Linked DNA regions of Homo sapiens: region 2 is linked to region 1. A link means that fine-mapping ties the variant in region 1 to the expression of a gene that starts in the linked region. Tissue or cell type: B cells. Region 1 holds a variant in brackets; the other region holds the start of a gene. All regions are shown on one strand. Distances are between the middles of the regions.

Region 1 (10,043 bases):
CACCGATAATGTAGTACGGAGTAGAAAAGCAACTTATCTGATGGAAGAGCTTTTCAGGACTGTCTCTGTGTCTCATGAGAGACACGGGTACCTGCAGATTCTGTGGATTTTGTTGTGTGGAGCATGAAAGGGAAGAGTCATGGAATCACAAGAATGACAGGCTAAGCCCTGGCTCTGCCACTAGCCAGCTGTGCAACCCTAAGCAGATACTCAAGCTTTCTCAGTTTTATTTTCTCCAGAAAAGGTGGTAATGATAATACTTAACTCATTAGGTCCACCCCTAACATTTCCAGGACCCCTGGCAAGAGTGTACACAAAAACCTCTGCCACAGCCCCCCTCCCTTCTCTTTCCATCTGGCTCCATCCTGCCCTCCACACCTCAGCTTGCAGGTCCTAACTCCTGCCACACCATTCCCCACTGAAAACCACCCATGCCATCTCTCAGCCCAGGGGCACAGTTCACTTGCATTCCATGGGGCAAGGGGCCCAGGCAAATCCTAGAAGCAGGCTCGGGCCACTGAGGCAGGGAATTTTGGGGCCTGGGCAGCCAGAGTTTGGTCTAGAAAAGTGTGGCCCTTCCAACCCCATAGGGAGGAAAGTGGCAAATATGTGTCTTTAAAGTGTGGGCCTCAGTTGCTTGGGTCTGAGAATTAAATGAGTCAGTGCACACACAGCACTTCTGACATCGAGCGGGGAGTGTGCCCTTGGAGAAAGGGATCCTTCAATAGGAGTCAGTGCCCTTAAGTCTCCTGTAAAGGTCTTGTCAAATTGATGTTGGAACACCTCAAATATTTACCAAACAATGAGGAGCACAGTCCTTAGGTGGATAAAGATTATGGTGACATTTCAAACTCGATAACAGTGTATTGAAAGGCCCAACATAGACTATTTCAAGTCAGAGAAACCTCTTCAGGTTCAGATTTGCAGACTGATCCTTTTCTCTTCTTTTGTTTGAGATGGAGTCTCAAAATATTTGATACTCTGTCGCCAGTCTGGAGTGCAGTGGCACAATCTCGGCTCACTTCAACCTCTGCCTCCCAGGTTCAAGCGATTCTCCTGTCTCAGCCTCCCGAGTAGCTCAGACTACAGGCGCGTGCCACCACACCCATCTAATTTTTGTATTTTTAGTAGAGACGGGGTTTCACCTTGTTGGCCAGGATGGTCTTGATCTCTTGACCTCGTGATCCACCCACCTCGGCCTCCCAAAGTGCTGGGATTACAGGCATGAGCCACCGTGCCCGGCCCACTTTTTTTTTTTTCATGAGTTAAGCATGAAATAAAAGTAATTTTTAAGTGTCCTTTCTTGTTCTCATTTAAAAACCTAGTTTGTTTCATTTATCTATAATCAATACATTCTTTGGCTTTTTAGCATCTGAAAATTTCTTACATGATATATATTTCTAGAGCTTTTAATTATGGAAATGCTGAAACGTATATGAAATAGAGGGAATATAATGGGCTTATTTGTGAATCTCCATGTACCCACTGCCCAGTTAGCTTCCACACGCATGGCTAATCCTGTTTTATCTATAAACTCTCCTTCCTGCCCCACTCTGGCAATGGATTTTCAATCAAATCTCAGGCCTCTTATCATTTCATCCACAAATACTTTGTTTTTTATAAGATTTTGATGAAAACATTTTAAGCTTTTTCCATCTGGCTGCTTTAGACTCCGCTTGTTCAACTGGGCTGTCAATGGACCAAACCACGAGTCTTTTTAGATGCCTTGCATGGTTTTAGGTCCAGATAATTCAGGGCAAATCGGTTTGAAAATTGAACCTCTTTTAATTTGTCTGCCAGACTGGAACTGAATAAGGGAACATTTTGGATACTTTTTATTCCTTGCTGAATTTCTGCCAACTCTGTATATGGTATTTCCATAAAAGTCTTGTTTTTCTCCCTTTTCTTTGAAGAATGAAACTTCTTTTCCCTTTTTCTGAGAGGCGGGAAGAGACTGTCCCCAGAGTCCATTCCTCCTGCGGCTGCTTGGCTTTCCTTGGGCTGTATTCCCTTCCTACTCTGAGTGTGTACGTTCTGGGGGTTGGCAGTCCAGTGGGGACCCAGACATGGGGATGGTGGGCCTTCTTGATGTCATACAAAGATTACTGCACTTCAGTCACTGGAGCTCAACTGAAAACTTAAAAAAGTTCTCTTGGGCTGGGTGCGGTGGCTCACGCCTGTCATCCCAGCACTTTGGGAGGCCGAGGTGGGTGGATCATGAAGTCAGGAGTTCGAGACCAGCGTGGCCAAGATGGTGAAATCCCGTCTCTACTAAAAATACAAAAATTAGCCGGGCGCAGTGGCGGGTACCTGTAATCCCAGCTACTCAGGAGGCTGAGGCAGGAGATTCACTTGAACCCAGGAGGAGGAAGAGGTTGCAGTGAGCTGAGATCGTGCCACTGCACTCCGGCCTGGGTGACAGAGCAAGACTCCATCTCAAAAAAAAAAAAAAAAAAAGTTCTCTTTACAGTCATTGAATTTTAAATCATTATCCTAAAAAGATTGAGAGAGGAAAAAAATGATTTCAAATTGGACAGAATTTTTTTTTTTACATCTCCTTGCCAGAAACATTGTTCTCATTTTCAGTTGAATGGCTTGGGTATTAATTAAAGCTTCATGCTCAGCCACTATCTCCTTTTCTACATTCTTGCTGCTAATCGTCATATATGTAACACATGACTTCTGTTTAAATGCTCAAGTTTATTAGAGTGGAAAAAAATCTCAGTTATACAGGAAAGGAAAAGAGATTAGGAATCAAGTCCAACCATGTGCTTATTCATCTGCATATGGTTAAAGATTTAAAAGAATCCATTGGTTTCTTTTTCACTGCTGCATGCAGGCCAAGGAGAAAGGAGGAAAAAAAATCATTTTCCTATCCATGGTGTAGAAATACATCTTCTGCCTTTTGCCTGGCAGGCAAAAAATTTCTTCCTCTTTTAATATTAAGCGAAAGTACCCAAGCTTTGGAGAAACTGTCTCCTTCTGAAAGGTTATTTTTCTAATTACCTATTGCTTTGTGACAAATTATTCCAAAACTTCGTGGTGGAAAACTACTACCATTTAATCATGCCTATGAACTCTGTGGATCAGCAAATCACAGGGCACAGAAGGGAGAGCTTTTCTCTCTTCCAAGGTGTCTGAGCCTCAGCTGGGAAGACCAGAAAGCCTGGAGTGACTCAAATGGCAGGGCTGGAATAATCTGGAGACTTCTCCTCTTGCATGTCTAGTGCCTCCAGTGAGATGACTCAAAGTCTATACTAAGATGTGACTGTCAATTGGAATGTCTACAGATACCATAAAATTCACCCAGTATACAATTCAGTGGCTTTTAGTATATTCACAGAGATGTACAACCATCACCACTGTCGAATTCCAGAACATTTTCATCACCTCCAAAAGAAGCCTCATACCCATTAGGAGTTGCCCTCCATTTCCCCTTCTCACTGCCCCTGGAAACCACTAAGCTACTTTCTGTCTATGGACTTGCCTACTCTGGACATTTCATATGAATAGAATCATGCATTTGTTGTCTTTTGTGGCTGGCTTCTGTAACTTAGCCTACTGTTTACAAGGTTCATCCACACTGTAGCATGTATTAGTACTTCATTCCTTTGTGTGATCGAGTAATATTCCACTATATGGATATACCACATTTTGTTTATCTGTTCATTAGTAGAGCATTTGGGTTGTTTCTACTTTCGGGTTATTATGAATAACGCTGCTGCGAACATATAAGTTTTTGTGTAAATACATGTTTTTAATTCTCCAGGGTATACACCTATGGGTAGAATTTCTGGGTCATATGATAACCCTATGTTTGATTTTTGTGAAACTGCTGAACTGTTTTCCACAGCTGCTGCACCATTCTACATTCCTACCAGCAATGTAGGAGGGCTCCAATTTCTCCAAATCCTTGGCAGCATGTATTTTCTGGGTTTTCTTGGACTATAGCCACCCTAGGGGGTTGCTGCCCTTAGTTTAAAAAGAGCCTCCTGGCCGGGCGCAGTGGCT[C/T]ACGCCTGTAATCCCAGCACTTTGGGAGGCCGAGGCGGGCAGATCACGAGGTGAGGAGATGGAGACCATCCTGGCTAACACAGTGAAACCCTGTCTCTACTAAAAATACAAAAAAAACAAACAAAAAAAAAATTAGCCGGGCGTGGTGACAGGCGCCTGTAATCCCAGCTACTCGGGAGGCTGAGGCAGGACAATGGCGTGAACCCAGGAGGCGGAGCTTGCAGTGAGCCGAGATCGCGCCACTGCACTTCAGCCTGGGCAACAGAGCGAGACTCTGTCTCAAAAAAAAAAAAAAAAAAAAAAAAGAAAGAAGAGCCTCCTTAACACACCAGGGGAGCTACCACTGATGGAGACAAATGTGACTGAGGGCTTGAGGGCTTACTATTTAGCAGGCTCTGTGCTAAACACTGTACATACATCATCTGAATGTTTAGTGCTCCCTACAACTCTAACGCAGGTACATTATGCTTATTTTACAGAAAGGTCAAGTAACTTGCCAGAAAAGGGATAGAGTTTGGGAGATGTGGATTTCCCATATTAAAAAAAAATTAGAGAACTTGGATACTAAGGTAGGAGTTTGGTGGCCCAAGTGAAAGGTTATTATTATTATTTTTTCAAAACAAAACAAAAAACATCTAGCTGATTGTGGTTGGCAGAAGTCTCAGATGGCCCCCAGAACGGGCATGGTGGCTGACGCCTGTAATTCCAGCACTTTGGGAAGCCGAGGTGGGCGGATCACTTGAGCCCAGGAGTTCGAGACCAGCCCGGCCAACATGGTGAAACCCCATCTCTGCTAAAAATACAAAAGTTAGCCGGGCTGGTGGTGCACTCCTGAAATCCCAGCTAGTCAGGCGGCTGAGGCACGAGAATCGCTTGAACCAGGGAGGTAGAGGTTGCAGTGAGTTGAGATTGCACCACAGCACTCCAGCCTGGGTGACAGAGTGAGACTCCGTCTTAAAGAAAAAAAAAAAAGATGTCCCCTAATATTCCACCCCCTGATTTACATGCCCTGGATAATCTACTATCCGTTAGTATGGGTGGGATCTGTGAATATCATGACATGTCATTCCTCTGATTATGTTACATTAACATGGCAAAAGGGACGTAATTATGATCCTAATCAGTTGACCTTGAATTAATCAAAAGGGAGATTACACTGACTCAGTCATGTGAGTCCTTAAAAGATAGGAAGCAGGCCACCACAAATCCTACAACTGCAAGGAACTGAATTCTGCCAACAACCATCTGAAGGTATCTGAAAAGGATTCAGAGTTGCAGATCAGAACTCAGCCTTGGCCATCATCTTGATTTCAGCCTTTTGAGATCTTGAGCAGAAAACCTTCTTTGCCTGGATTTCTAACCTACAGAGATAATGTATTGTTTTAAGCCAATATATGTGTGGCAATTTTTTACACAGCGATAAAACTAATACACAGATCACTGACTGACTAAAGAGGAGATAGGCCGGGCGCAGTGCCGCATGCCTGTGATTCCAGCACTTTGGAAGGCCAAGATAGGAGGATTCCTTGAGACCAGGAGTTTGAGACCAGTCTGGACAACATAGTGAAACCCTGCCTCTTATTTTAAAAAAAGAAGAGATGAATTCGCTGATGTGACATTATGTAAAGCAGCAGTTCTTAAAATGTGGTCCAAGGTCCTGGGGAGTCTTCAAGACGTTTTTAGGGGTTTATGAGGTCAAAACTATTTTCATAGTAATATTAAGATGTTATTTGCCTTTTCCTTGTCATTCTTATGATGGTATAGTTTTCCAGATGCTACAAGATGTGTGATGATATTGTTCTGACAGCCAGTGGAATATGTCCTTTTATATTCTTGCGTTTAAAATTTTTGTCTAGTTTCTACAATGGTAAATATTGACAAATATAGCTCACACAAACAAAAGCTCATTGGGATATATTTTTTTTTTTTCTGAGGCAGGGTCTCACTCTGTCACCCAGGCTGGAGTGCAGTGCCATGATCTCGGCTCACTGCAACCTCCACCTCCCAGGCTCAAGTGATCCTACCACCTCAGCCTCCCAAGTAGCTGGAACTATAGGTGTGCATCACCATGCCTGGCTAATTTTTGTATTTTTTTTGTAGAGATGGGGTTTTACTGTGTTGCCCAGGCTGATCTCAAACTCCTGGGCTCAGGTGATCCATCCACCTCGGCCTCCCAAAGTGCTGGGATTACAAGTGTGAAACACTGTGCCCAGCCAGTTTTCAATAATTTTTTAGTATAATGAGGTCCTGAGATCAAAACGTTTGTGAAGCACTGGTCTAGATAAAATATAACTGAAGTGAGCCTAGACAAGTCTGAAGCTATAATTTTTTTCTTTTTTTTTTTTTGAGGTGGAGTCTCGCTCTGTCCCCCAGGCTGGAGTGCAGTGGTGCCATCTCAGTTCACTGCAACCTCCACCTCCCTGGTTCAAGCAATTATTTGCCTCAGCCTCCCAAGTAGCTGGAATTACAGGCGCCCGCCACCACGCCGGCAAATTTTTTGTATTTTTAGTAGAGATGGGGTTTCACCATCTTGGCCAGGCTGGTCTTGAACTCCTGACCTTGTGATACACCCACCTTGGCCTCCCAAAGTGCTGGGATTACAGGCGTGAGCCACCATGCCTGGCCAAATAATTTATGTATTTAATTAGTGCCTATGTTTTGTACAGAGCTGTGGTGTAAATACTATCAAAAGTGGAACAAGGATACAAAACTAGAATGAGGTACAGTCCCTGAAGACAAACATAAATAATCAGCAATAGCATTCATTATTCCTTCCACAGGTGTTTCTAAGAACAAGGACTGCAATTCGATGGTATATAACTCAGCACTAACCTTTGGTATGGGTGGCTATGTCACAGAGTTATTTAGAGAATTTGCTCAAGCTAAATGAAGACAAAGACTTTGTGGGTGGGGCAAAATCTAAGTTGGGAGTGAAGTAGAAGGAGGACAAATATTTAAGGCATTATCCTTTGGAACTCAGGTAAAATACCACTTTCTTAGAAAGGCCTTTCCTGATTTCCCTATCTAGAACACCAACTACCTTCTACTCCGTCATAGTACCCTGTTACCCCATTTATTTCCTTTTGAGGACATTTTTTCTTTTTTCTTTAAAAAAAAAAAAAAACACCTAACGTAGCTATTAAGGTAAGCCTGGCTGGAGCTAGAATGCCTTGGTTCAAATCTGAGCTTTGTCACTTTCTAGTTCTATAATCTTTAATAAATTACTTAACCTCTCTGTGGTGTAAATATTATAAAAAGTGGAACAAGGGCCGGACGTGTGGCTTACACCTGTAATTCCAGCACTTTGGGAGGCCAAGATGGGTGGATCACCTGAGGTTGGGAGTTCAAGATCAGCCTGGCCAACATGGTAAAACCCTGTCTCTACTAAAAATACAAAAATTAGCCAGGTGTGGTGGTGCATGCCTGTAATCCCAGCTACTCGGGAGGCTGAGGCACAAGAATCGCTTGAAGCCAGGAGGCAGAGGTTACAGTGAGCCAGTAAGGTGAGATTGCACCACTGCACTCCAGCCTGGGCGATGGAGCGAGACTGTCTCGAAAAAAAAAAAAAAAAAAAAAAAAGAAAGAAAAAAGTGAAACAAGTATACAGAACTAGCATGAGGGGAAGTCTCTGAAGACAAACATAAGTAATTAACAAAATCATTCATTTGTTCCTTCCACAGGTGTTTCCTCAGTTCCTCAATAAAACTTGCTCATCAAGCAAGAAATTTTTGTTGAAGAGCTGGCTTAGGTTGTAACTATGGGACTGAAAAGGAAAGGGTAGATATGAACTAAGTCAAAGGCAGAATCAATAGGTGATGACAAAGGAGAGGAACAGTAAAAGTAATTTCAAGGAGAGAAGAGGAAGACGAGAAAATTCTGGGGATAATGAAACAAAAAAGGCAACCAATTATAATTGGGTAAAGAAAGAGTGAAAAAGCAAAAATGATCCCAAAGTTTGTTGCTTGAGGGACATGATAGAAGCTAGTGGGCTAGCATTAGTTAACTACTCCAGTGCGAAAAGGAGGAGCTATGTCAAATTCATGTTTAAAATGAGTGGGCAGCAGGAACACAGTTGTAGATGATTTGTTTTTAGAGTGCTAGAGGGATGGGCCCTAACAAAAGAATGTTGAAGGCGGACAAGATTTGGGTGTCTGCTCATTGTGCGCCAGGGCTGAAGTCATGGGAAGAAACCCCGTGAGGCTCAAACGCTGACCTGTAGGGAGAAGGACAATTTTCTTTAACACTTACAATGATGTTCTTATTGTTGGTAAAAGGTGCTTAATACATTGCTATCAAATGCCTTTTGGGGGATGGGGCTTTTCAGAAAAAAAAAAAAGCACTCATTCAACCCAAGGAACTGTATAGTAAAGGGGTACGTTTCTCAATTTTAACTTACCATGTATCTTTGAAAGGTAGAATGATGTGTTCCAAGTTGCTTTTATAAGGGGAAGCTTGGGTCATCTCCTTCCTAGCAAGGACATCTTGCTATTCAACTCACAATTGTCACCACTCCTCTTGTTGACACGGTTTCATAGCACTCTTCGTTCCAGGCTAAAGTTTCCTGTCATGATTTTTGGGCATCCTTTTTGAAACAGTTAGACATTCTGACCTGGCAAGCTACTGAGACCTTTTAGGATAGCTGGACTGTAGATAGAAATCTTCCAGGGAAGTAGGTGTGGGCAGGATGTGTGGTTTCCCTGCCTCTCATTTGAAGACTGATTCAATTAATTTTTTCATGAACAGTCTCCTACAGTAAAAGTTGCATTCAGAGTGTTCTAAGAGAAACTGGAAGGGACAAGCTAGCTACTCATCTTCTTCAGTTTGAGTTGGGACTGGCGCACTATCTTTCTGAATGTCACAGAAATGCACAGCAGGGAAATTGTGCCACCAGCCCCCTCTGCTAATGGGACCTTGAGGACTCAAATTAGCCATAACAGTAACACACAGCAGAGCATGCACTTGTTTACCAGAGTAATCTGAATGATCAGGAAGATGCAATAACACATGTCTCAGCCTGGCTCTGAATGAGTACACAGCAGCCTGAACCTATGAAAGATATAACATTTCTAAACTTTTGGTGATATAACACATACACATTCTTTCTCTGACATTCCAGGCTAACCACTGTCTTAAGTTAAGGCTCTGCAAAACATCTGGGACATATGTTTCTGGAAAAAATTATAGCATCTTTTCTACAATTCTCTCTGGTCTGATCTTTGTTAAGCTCTGACCTGACAGAAGCCTCTGCAGCAGGATTACCTGTGGGGGCCCAGGGAAGCTGCCCCACAGCACAGAGAGGCATTCACTAAACGCAGTTCACTTTCCCTTACCATTCATTTACCTAGTGCCACTCAGGGAACAAAGTACAGAGCAGAGAAAGCCTTAAACAGCAATAAAATGCAGATGCTGTTGTCCCTGAAAAAATCACTTTCTTTCTAGAACAGTCAAGGCTTATTTCACCTCAGCCCCTGGTTGTATGATACTAATACGCTCTGATACTCCAGGGAAGCAACCAGTGACTGAGATTTGAGGATTAAAATCAAAGCACAATGAACTATCATTTGGCTGCCCCAGGCCCACTAAATCCAGACAGCAAAGTGTTCTCACCATTCTGAGACACCTTCGGCTACACATTTCTCCAGCCAAAAACCTAGGAAGATGTCCGGCTGACAGATGCGCCTGTTACATGATTCAGAGAAGACAGTTTTTTTGTTTTTTTTGCTTTTTTTTTTTAAAAAAAAAAAAAAGAAAAAAGGCTGGATCAGCCTCAGGATTTTAATCTTACATGATCGTGGATAATCATGTCTCTTTTCACAAAAATTCAATCACTTCACTAATCACTATTTATTAGATTTATATCATACTTATAAAGCAAAAGATTTAAGAGGAAAAAACCTATATATACTACAGGAGAGAATCTTCTCTTTTCTGTTTTTTATTTTGTTTTGTTTTTTTTTTTTTTGGCTGCTTTGTTAAAGAAGCAGAGGTTAGAGGGAAGGAAATGGAATTCCTGTTTTTGAGGAGCTCCTGGG
Region 2 (10,043 bases), 49 kb before region 1:
CTTCCCATCCAACTTTACGGGAAACTACCCCCAACTCCAACATTTTGCCAGGAAATACTGTGCTTCCCTTGAGTACCTGTTATGTTTTTTCATGGTTTACGAGGCACAGAGTTGTTTCACTTTTCATTTTGGTTCCCAAGATGCATTCAAGGGCCTGGTTCAACCTGTAGAATACCTGTAGGGCCCATTATTTTATGAGTGTTTCCATCCTCCACCGAACCATCCCTACCAGTGTCTGCATTTTCCCTGGCCCTTTTACTCTCTGATAGTTTTTGTAAACTCTAAGTTATTGATCATTTGGTGTCATTTTTTTCTTTGTTATTAAAGAAACTTTGTTCATATTCCAGGCTGAAAGACTGGAATTCTTAGGCTTTTTTTTTTTAAGGCTGTTTTCACACATCTTCTTGCCTATTAAAAAAAGTAAGCTTGTGTGTTCTGCCATGTATTATCATCTTACCAATCAAATGTCTTAAAGATTTTTCTCTGAAATTTTACTGATTAAAGTATTTAAAATCAGAGACTTCCTCAATTCATTGATGAAATGCTTTTACAGCTAGAATATTATATAACAAGACCAAAAGGTATTAATACAAACCAAATACTTAAAGAGGCAGGGACATACAAATCTTAGAAATATAATACTAAAAACTAATTTTCTGTTACTAAGAGCTAATAGCTACAATACAGTCACTGAGTTGAGTATAAGCCAGACACATCTCCACAACATGGTGTCTGGGGGTGGCAACTATTGTTTTCCCCCATTCTACAGAACAGAAGCTAGGAGAGAGATGTCAAGTAGCTAGCCCAGCATCACAGAAGGCAGGAAGTGGCAGAACGGGGACTAGAACTCACATATGCTAGACTCCCAGGTCCACTCCACACTGTCTCCCCAGGATGTTTCTATACTTCTTTGTTAAATGAGATGTGGGGGTAGATGGGGGGAATCTAGCATTCAAGCAATGTATCAATTATGCAATAAAGAAAAAGCAGGAAGGAATCAAAAGGTGTCAAACCACGCAATGTCACTTTTGTATATACCCACCTTTCACCCGGGAGTCCTGAGGCCTCAGTCAAAATGCAGCATCTCATACAAAGGCCTAGCAAACATGGCTATTTGATTCCCAGGCCCAGAACAGATCAGAAACAGTATGACATAAATAATCACAATGTCAAGAAGTGACAGGTGGGTAGCAAAAATGGGAGGAAGGGCTGGGCGCCATGGCTCACGCCTGTAATCCCAGCATTTTGGAAGGCCAAGGCAGGGGGAATCACCTGAGGTCAGGAGTTGGAGACCAGCCTGGCCAACATGGCAAAACCCTGTCTCTACTAAATAATACAAACATTAGCCGGGCATGGTGGCAGGCACCTGTAATCCCAGCTACTCGGGGCGCTGAGGCAGGAGAATCACTTGAACCTGGGAGGCGAAGGTTGCAGTGAGCTGAGATCGCGCCACTGCACTCCAGCCTGGGCGACAGAGCAAGACTCCGTCTCAAAAAAGAAAGAAAAAAAAATGGGGGGAAGGCGACAGACAGCAGAGTTTGTGTAGAACATCCCTAAGTACTTCACTCAACTAAGACATCGCTTTTAGAGTTAAAATTCTTAGAATAGTCCAACTTCTGTGACCTTGAGCAAATCTTTCTGAGCTTCAGTGTACTGATCTGTAAATGATGTTGGATAATCCCAGCAATCCTCCTCACCTTACAGGACTGCTCTGCTGTTAAGATCAAAAGACTTCCTATGAAAGAATACTGTCTGAAAGGACTACAAAAATGAAACGGGTTATTAAAAAATGGGTTTGGTGCTTAAAGGGATAAATCCACAGCTTTCATAACTAACTTTCCAAAGGTTCTAAAAACTGAGGTTTTACCGTTTTTAAATATTTACAATAATTACAGTGATCTAGCCTGTGTATGCATTTCCTTGGATCTGCTCAGTATTAAGCAGGAAAAGGGCAAAAGCTGCTACATTAGTCAGCAAAAAAGAAATTAGCATGGATATTATTAACATCCAAGAAAAGTAAGTCACTTGAAGGGCTGCCAACGTTATCAGTACCTCATTTACAATGCAAAAGGTAGTAGAGACTCAACTGCTGCCAGCCAAGAATCACTGGGGGGAATTACAATGAATGTGCACAACCAGGCCAAAGTATCACATCACATCCAACATTTTGGACATGCCCATTCCTCTGAAGTTTCCTAAAGTTCGGTTTGTAAATCCTGGAAGGAAGGAAACAGTAACTTGTTACAAACTTTTCAGTTGGTGAGGTTTGCACTCAATCATACACAAACCATTCACCTTTCTGCTCTCTAAAAAAATTGTTAGCAAACTGTTGTCTAATACGGGCAACACGTTTGAAAAGGTAAAGGACCTAAACATTTCAACTTTAGATACATAGACTAAAATCAACTCCTTGCTTCAAAGACAGTATGATGTGCAGACTAACAGCGGGAGACAAGAGCCACAACTCTCCCTTGGGGTTTGACAACGGTGCGCTTCATTACCTCTTTACATAATTCGCTTCACACCGCCTACCCCCGCAGCCCCGGGATGTTCCAGCTCTGACAATGCCAGTGCCTTCCACCAGCGGTCGGACGGTGCGGTGGCAATCCTGACATGCTTGGGCTCCCGGGAGGTTAATGGGAATTAAACCACAGGCAGCCCTCCTTTGTGGCGCTTTGGCCAGAACAGCAGAAAGGAGACAATGAGCGTTCTGTGCACAGTTCCGCGCCGATTGGCTGGTCTCTCCCCCCAGAAACCCCTGATGTCATGGGCTTGGAATGCAGGGAGGGAGGAAGGAAGGAGAGGATTTGGGGAGGGGGACGCCTCTCATCTCTTTCCCAGGCCAAAAGTCCTAAAGATAAACCTAACGCATTCTTGGGCTCAGTGGCAAAGCTGAGCGTCACCAAATCCCAATCGCTCCAAACTATAAGCCGCCTCAGCAAACAAGCCCCAAACAAAAGCAACCCACAAAAATAATCCTTTATGTCGTGAAAGTCTAATGTACTTCAAACTTCTCAGTGTTTCATAAAAAGTCTCAAGCCTAAGCAGATATCACTCGCACAGTGGCGCGCTCAGGCTTTGTCTCCATTTCCCGCAAAAGCAACAGCAGAAGCAGCAGCAGCAATCTGCCTCCAAATGCCTCCCAGGCACCGAGATCGGAGACTGTGATGGGTCCCGGACCGGCTTCCGTTCCTCGGGGCCCCTGGGGTCGGCGGGACATTAGGCGGTCTCTCTCCCCGTGGGGAGGCGCGGAGTCCGCCAGCACCCGGGGCCCGGGCAGATGGCGGGGGCTGCGGCAGCGGCTCGCCGGGTCCCTGGCCGCGCAGACGGGCTCCGCCTAAGGGCGAGTGGCCACGCAGGAGCGCCCCCTTCCCGGAGGGCGCGTTCTGCAGTCACCAAACGGCCCCCGAGACCCCCGCAGCCGGAAAGGCTGGCGCCGCGGGACTCCAGGCGCCCGGGAACCCACCGCCAGCCACTAGTCCTGTCCCACGGCGCGGGAACAAAGCCAGGCGGGTGCCCGGGAGCCGGCCCCGCAAGCCCGGGGACTGGACGCGACCGGGACAGGCAGAGACGCTCGCGCCGCCTCGACGGCCCCTCTCCAGGAAAACGGTGAGCCACAGCGCGAAGAGCAAACGAAGCACGGCCCAGCGCCAGGCCAGCCCAAGGGTGCCCCGGGGGCCCCCGCGCCCGCCCGAGCCAGGCGTACCTTGTTCTTGACTTCGGCCGAGAGCCCATAGGAAGGGCCCTTGTTGAAGTGGGTCATGGTGGTTCGGGCGGCGGGAAGAGACAGCGCTGGGGTCCGGGGTCTCTCGCACTTCGCTTCCCCGCTCCTGGCCCCGAGGAGTGGCCGCCGCGGGGGATGCTCGAACTCCCTCCTCTGGGAGGCGCAGGAGACGGCCGCGGGGCGCGGGCGGTGCCTGGGCGACTGGGTCCAACTGGGTGCTACAGAGCCTCGAGCTCCGCTGCGAAGCACCCGGCTGCCTCGCTCGCCGCCCGCACCTCGGTTCCCCACAGGCCGCCCCCGCCTCCGCCTGGGCCTTCGAGGATTGGCCGCCGGGCCCGACCAATGGAGGGCCGCCTCCTCCCGCCTCTGCGCCGAGGGGCGGTGCGGCCAATTGAAGGGCCGCGGGGGCCGCTTTCCCTCCCGCTCCCTCCCCGCGAGGTCCCCGGCCCCCGCCCCAGCCCTCACGCCACCGGGGCCGGCGGCTAGGCGGCCCCGCCCCCGGGCTAGGCAGGGCGCCTGGGGGCTTCCCAGCCACAGGCCATTCACGTCAACCTCCAGGCATCCTCCGCGGCGGGCCGGACCGGGCCGGCGGAGGGGAGCGGAAGCCCACCGGGGCTGGCCCGCCGCTGACCCGCCGCCTCCGTCTGCCTCCTCCCGGGCTCTGGGCCCAGCGCGCCCAGATGCCGGGCAGGACCCCTCCGCCCGCTGCTGGAACACCAATAGCAGCGTTGGAGCCTCTGGGCCGGAGGAACTGGGGCCTCCACCGACACCTGCTTCTTCCCTCACCTCGCAGCCTTCCACACCTGTTGATCTGACCTCTGCCCCGCTGCCGCCCAGGAGTAACCTAAGGCTTTTGGCCTGATTCGAGCTCACTCCGTCTAAACCTCTAAATGCGGTGCGAAAAAATCCTGGGGAATGTGCCATGCAAAGCCTGGGCATTTCAAGTGCTTTTCTGGATTCGCATCAACTCCTCTTTACAGGCATCTTTATCCGGAATTCAGCTCGTCCCAAACCCCACGTGGTGTAGCTCTGCTTGTGTTTTTGAATCCCGGGGCCTCTTTGAATCAGAAGCCCTTTGTATAGAGATAAGTATCCTTTAGGCCAGAATCAGCCTCCATTTTTTTCGCAGTCCCATTTCCTACCCGTAATACTTTCTTCTGATTTTAAAGCCATTTGATAGAGAAGGGACAGGGAACAGAACCTTCGCCCCCCGCCTGAGCAGCTGGTAGACTAGATATCTTCCAAACATTATCTCATTTACTTCCCTGGAGTTACAAATAGGTAGATTTCATGTCCGTTGAGGGGTGAGAAAGCTGAAACTTTGAGACTTAAGAATCCTGGCCGAGGTCAGCCTCCTCCGAAGCTTCATCTCTTGCCACCACTTTCTGGTGCACACCTAGGACAGATTTCAATCCCTGAGATCCCAGGATGAAACCTATGTTTGCCAAATACCAGCTACTGTGCCAGAAGAGATCATGGAACCAGGTGTGGAAAGCTGCTTGAGAAGAGGAGCCAAAACATCATAGTTGAACCGTCCTGGAATAGAAGTGAGTAAGGTGAACCAGGTGTGGTGGCTCATGCCTGTAATCCTAGCACTTTGGGAGACCGAGGTGGGAGGATTGCTTGAGGCCTGGAGTTCAGGAACATCCTGGGCAACATAGCAAGATCCTGTCTCTACAAAAAATCCAAAGTTTTTTTAAATTAAAAAAAAAAAGTGAGTAAGGCAGCTTGAACCGGAAATGCACAAAACTGCTATCCAGTTTGCAAGGCTTTTCCCAATGACTTTGAGGGATGGAACCTGAAGGAAGCGGGAGGAGGCAAATAGGGAGGAAAGTGAAATGATTTATAAATGACTTGCTAATTTTGTCCAAAGGGAGTAATGATAATTAGGGCATTCTTCCCACACGAAGATGACACAATTGACCCAATATCATTGAGGCTAACAGTTTGGGCTGTTTTTCCAGTAGTATGACAGTGACGGTGTGTCAACCGCAGGACCTCACCCACATTTCTTTGGGACCTAGGAGTGTGGGAAATAGCAGCCAGATTTGAGGTACAAATCATGGTGTCCAGCCTGCAAAGCCTTTTTGCAGCAATCTAAGCCTGACTGCTCCTGTTGTATGCTCAAAGTCATTTTAATCTACTTTAGCTTATTGTAAAATGTTCAAGAATTGTATTTTGTCTTGAAAACCATGAATTTTATTGTTTAGGGGGAGTTATTTTTTAAGGAGTGCAGGATTTCAGTTTTGGATGATGAAAAAGTTTTGAAGATGGGTAGTGACAGTGGTCACACAACATTGTAAATGTACTTAATGCCATTGTACACTTACGTGACTTTAAAGTAAACATGAAATTTTCTACATTTGTTTGTTTGATCAACTGTTATCCTCCCTAAGGTACTTGAAGTTCTTTCTGACATTGCCACTGGAACTTACTATTTAAATATTGTTGGTCCTCTTGGATTCCATCAGTACTCCAGAGACTTCCTTCGTTTCTAATTTAACTCATTGTGTAAGAATACGTAATGCTGTTGTTAGCACTAGGGAATGTATCTGAGTCTCATGCACCAAAGTGTGTTAGCAGCAGCAAATCTGTATGGGTCTGCAGCAACCTCAATTCTTGCCTCCTCCAAAGAAAGAATTCTACCGAGAGGCATAAGGCAGAGGGAGAGGCCAAGGCACGTTTTAGAGCAGGAGTGAAAGTTAGAGCAAGAATGAAACGAAGTAATGTACACTTGGAAGAGGGCCAGGCGGGCAACTTGAGAGATTCAAGTGCGCTGCTTGACCTTTGACTTGGGGTTTTATACATTGGCATGCTTCCAGGGGGTTGTGTCCCTTTTCCCCTGATTCTTCCCTTGAGGTGGGCTGTCTGCATGTGCAGTGGCCTGCCAGCACTTGGGAGGGACCACATGCTCAGTGTGTTAACTGAGGTTGTACGCATGCTCACTTGAGGCATTCTTCGCTTACTAGTCAAGTGTTCCTAGAAGAAGGTCATATATGAGTACCAGTTAAATGCCACCATTTTGCCTCTTAGTTCACACCTGTGAGCCCACTCAGCCAACTCCTAAGATCCTATCCAGAAGCTGCTGATCACCAGTTGTAGGTATTTTCTAGCCATTGGGAGACTGCCTTTCCCTGGTGCCGGCTGTGACCAGTTATTATTTTAGAGAGACAGTTTAACAACTGCCTGACCACCTGATGGTTGCGTGACATTCCTGGTGGGAGCGGGGAGCCCTCTCCTGCTCTGCTTGTGTCTGACTACCTACTGTGGCACTATAGAATCAAATGAGAAAAACTTAAAATTTGGGACAATTTTAACAGCTTTATTGAAGTATATTGATATAACAAAGTATATTTAAAGTGTTCAGTTTGATACACACATATACACATAGATACACCTATTTAAAAACCCATCACCACAACAGACAAAGGACATATTCATCATACCCAAAAGTTTCCTCATGTAGCCCCTCCCTCCCAGTCTTCCTTACCTCTCCACCCCACCAGGCAACCCCTGATATGCTTTATGTAACTATACATTAATTTGTATTTCCTAGAATTTTATATAATTGGAATCACACATTGTATATTCTGTTTTATCTGGCTTCTTTCACTCAGCAAAATTATTACGAGATTCACTGACGTTGTAGCATGTATCATTAGTTCATTCCTTTTATTACTGAGTAGTATTCAACTGTAGGGATACACCAGTGATTTTACCCATTCCCTTATTGATGAACATTTTGGTTGTTTCTAGATTTTGGCTATTGCAAATAAAGCTGCTATGAACATTCATGTACAAGTCTTTGTATGGACATATGCTTTAATTTCTCTCCCATAAATACCTATAAATGGAATGGCTGGATCAAGTGAAAGATGTATATTTCACTTTTTAAGAAACTGCAAACTTTTTCCAAAATGATTGTACCATTTTACATTCCCACCAGTGCGTATGAGAGTTCCAGTTCCTCTGCTTCCTCACCAACAGTTGGTAGGTCAGTTTTTTTAAATTTAGTCATTCTTATAGATGTGGAGTATGGTATCTCATTATGGTTTTAATTTGAATTCCCTTAATACGTAATGATGTTGGGCTTCTTTTCATGTATTTATTTGCCATCTGTGTATCTTTTTCATGAAATGTTTGTTCAGATCTTTTGCCTATTTTTATTGGATTGTGTGTTTTCTTATTATGGTATTTAACTTGTCACTGTTAGGATACATTTCAAAAATCCTGACCAAGTTCTAACAGTAGAATGTGTCAGTAAATGCTCAGTTTAAGTAAAATGTCACATTGCAAACTAACTACCAGGGTGTGGCCCAGCAATCTTAAGTACTTTCCCTGGAAGTTTCTGTAATATGCAGAACACTTTCAATTGAAATAAATGCTGTTAAGGAGGTCAACTCAACCTTTCCAAATTTTTATTAATTAAAAGCAGTTGTTGGAGAGTTGTAGAAAAGTATTTTTTCACAGAGGCAAATTTGTGGGTCATATTGCCATACATCTTGCCACGAAAATAATAACATAAAGTGTTTTGAAGAATTCACCCTGTAAATCTGTCAGAGGCATGTGAACCAAAGCAACTCCATCTTGAATAGGGGCTAGGTAAAATAAGGCTGAGACCTGCTAGGCTGCATTCCCAGACGGTTAAGGCATTCTAAGTCACAGAATGAGTTAGGAGGTCAGCACAAGGTACAGGTCATAAAGACTTTGCTGATAAAACAGGTTTCAGTAAAGAAGCCAGCCAAAACCCACCAAAACCAAAATGGCGGCAAGAATGACCTCTGGTCGTCCTCACTGCTACACTCCCACCAGCGCCATGACAGTTTGCAAATGCCATGGCAACATCAGGAAGTTGCCCTATATGATCTAAAAAAAGGAGGCATGAATAAGCCACCCCTTGTTTAGCGTATCATCAAGAAATAACTATAAATAAGGGCAACCGGCAGCCCAAGGGGCTGCTCAGTCTGGAGTAGCCATTTTTTTATTCCTCCTAATAAACTTGCTTTCACTTTACAGACTCGCCCTGAATTCTTTCTTGTGTGAAATCCAAGAGCCCTCTCTTGGGGTTGGATCGGGACCCTGTTCCTGTAACAAGTCCACAATGCCAGAGAATTAAAGAGAACCACAAAGGTATGGATCAGTTATGGTAAAGGCAGAAGGGACCCTAAAAGGCTCAGAGGCTAAGGGACTTTTAAGCACCTGCTATGTGCTAAGCACTATTAGAGGCACATAACAGGCAGTGAGATCAAAATTCATCACCCAAATAGGGGCATTTTTGAGAGTGAAAGGGCACTATTAATATTTTTTTGTTTCAGGCAGTCCTGATAAAGCCCCTTCATAGTGTGCTCATTTCACCCTCAAAAGTGTCCCGTTGAGATGCTAAATCACAGTCACCCCACTTATAGGCATCACTTGCAATAACCCTATAATAATCAATATTATCTATTCCTACTTTATAATCAAAAACTAAGGTTTAGTATGGTACACAACTCGGTCAATATCAAACAGTTAACAGAGAGCAGAGTTGGGATTTGAAACCAGGCCTGGTTTAGAATGATTGCTCAAAAACCAACTTCCCAGACTCCTGAAGAATCTGAAGTCACCCTTTTTTGAGGGGGGCAAGGGGGGATGCTTTATGGAATTTATTATAAAAATGCCCCTGGCCTGGTGCAGTGGCTCACACCTGTAATCCCAGCTCTTTGGGAGGCAAGCGGATCACATGAGGCCAGGACTTCGAGACCAGCCTGGGCAACATGGTGAAACCCCGTCTCTACTAAAAATACAAAAATTAGCCGGCAGGGTGGCACACACCTGTAGTCATAGCTACTCAGGAGGCTGAGGCGAGAGAATTGCTTGAACCCAGAGGTGCAGATTGCAGTGAGCCAAGATTGCACCACTGCACTCCAGACTGGGAGACTGCACTCCAGCAGAGTGAGACTCTGTCTTAAAAAAAAAAGCTCCTATCCTTTACATCTTTTTCTTTATAATAACAACTTTGTATTGGATTTGGCAGTGATCCTTTGTTGTTGCCCATCTTCATTTGAAATCAGTTTTTCCAAAACACATGTGAGCAGCCGAATAGAAGAGATGCATAGGATGAGGTATGGGAGAAGGGGAGCAGAACTGCCACGGCCTCTCTGTCACGCCCCACTTCAGGAACCTTCATGGGTTCAGCTACCTGGAAGCTCCCTGAAATTGCTCTTGTAAGGTACATTTGCTCCTTTTTCCCCTCCCTTTGGAGAGTGCTCACCAGTTACTCCAGGTGATACTATTAGTACATCCATCGTGTGCCACCTTTTCCACCAGAGGCAAGCATGTG

Alleles and levels. Positions count from the first base shown, and alleles are read on the strand shown. Sizes are in standard deviations (SD) of each study's normalised expression.
For the expression in B cells of the gene that starts at base 3,979 in region 2, allele T in region 1 goes with a lower level than allele C (moderate effect, 0.42 SD a copy in Fairfax 2012).

Evidence for each region. PIP is the estimated chance that this variant, and not a neighbour inherited with it, causes the effect.
Region 2: it holds the start of CNN3, and the variant in region 1 is fine-mapped to the expression of CNN3 in B cells (Fairfax 2012, PIP 0.95).

Annotation. Positions count from the first base shown.
Region 1 is chr1:94,971,725-94,981,767 of GRCh38, forward strand. ALG14 (ALG14 UDP-N-acetylglucosaminyltransferase subunit) reads right to left here. Exons shown (of 4, transcript NM_144988.4): 4 at 2,681-10,043. Among named protein-coding and RNA genes, the nearest start is that of CNN3, 50 kb to the left of the region's middle. The variant C/T (reference allele first, on the strand shown) is at 4,012.
Region 2 is chr1:94,923,132-94,933,174 of GRCh38, forward strand. It overlaps CNN3 (calponin 3), which reads right to left and starts at 3,979. Exons shown (of 7, transcript NM_001839.5): 1 at 3,707-3,979. The coding sequence starts at 3,763. CNN3-DT (CNN3 divergent transcript) reads left to right here and starts at 3,229. Exons shown (of 3, transcript NR_168377.1): 1 at 3,229-3,609; 2 at 8,741-8,854. RefSeq lists silencers at 3,087-3,516, 3,617-4,496.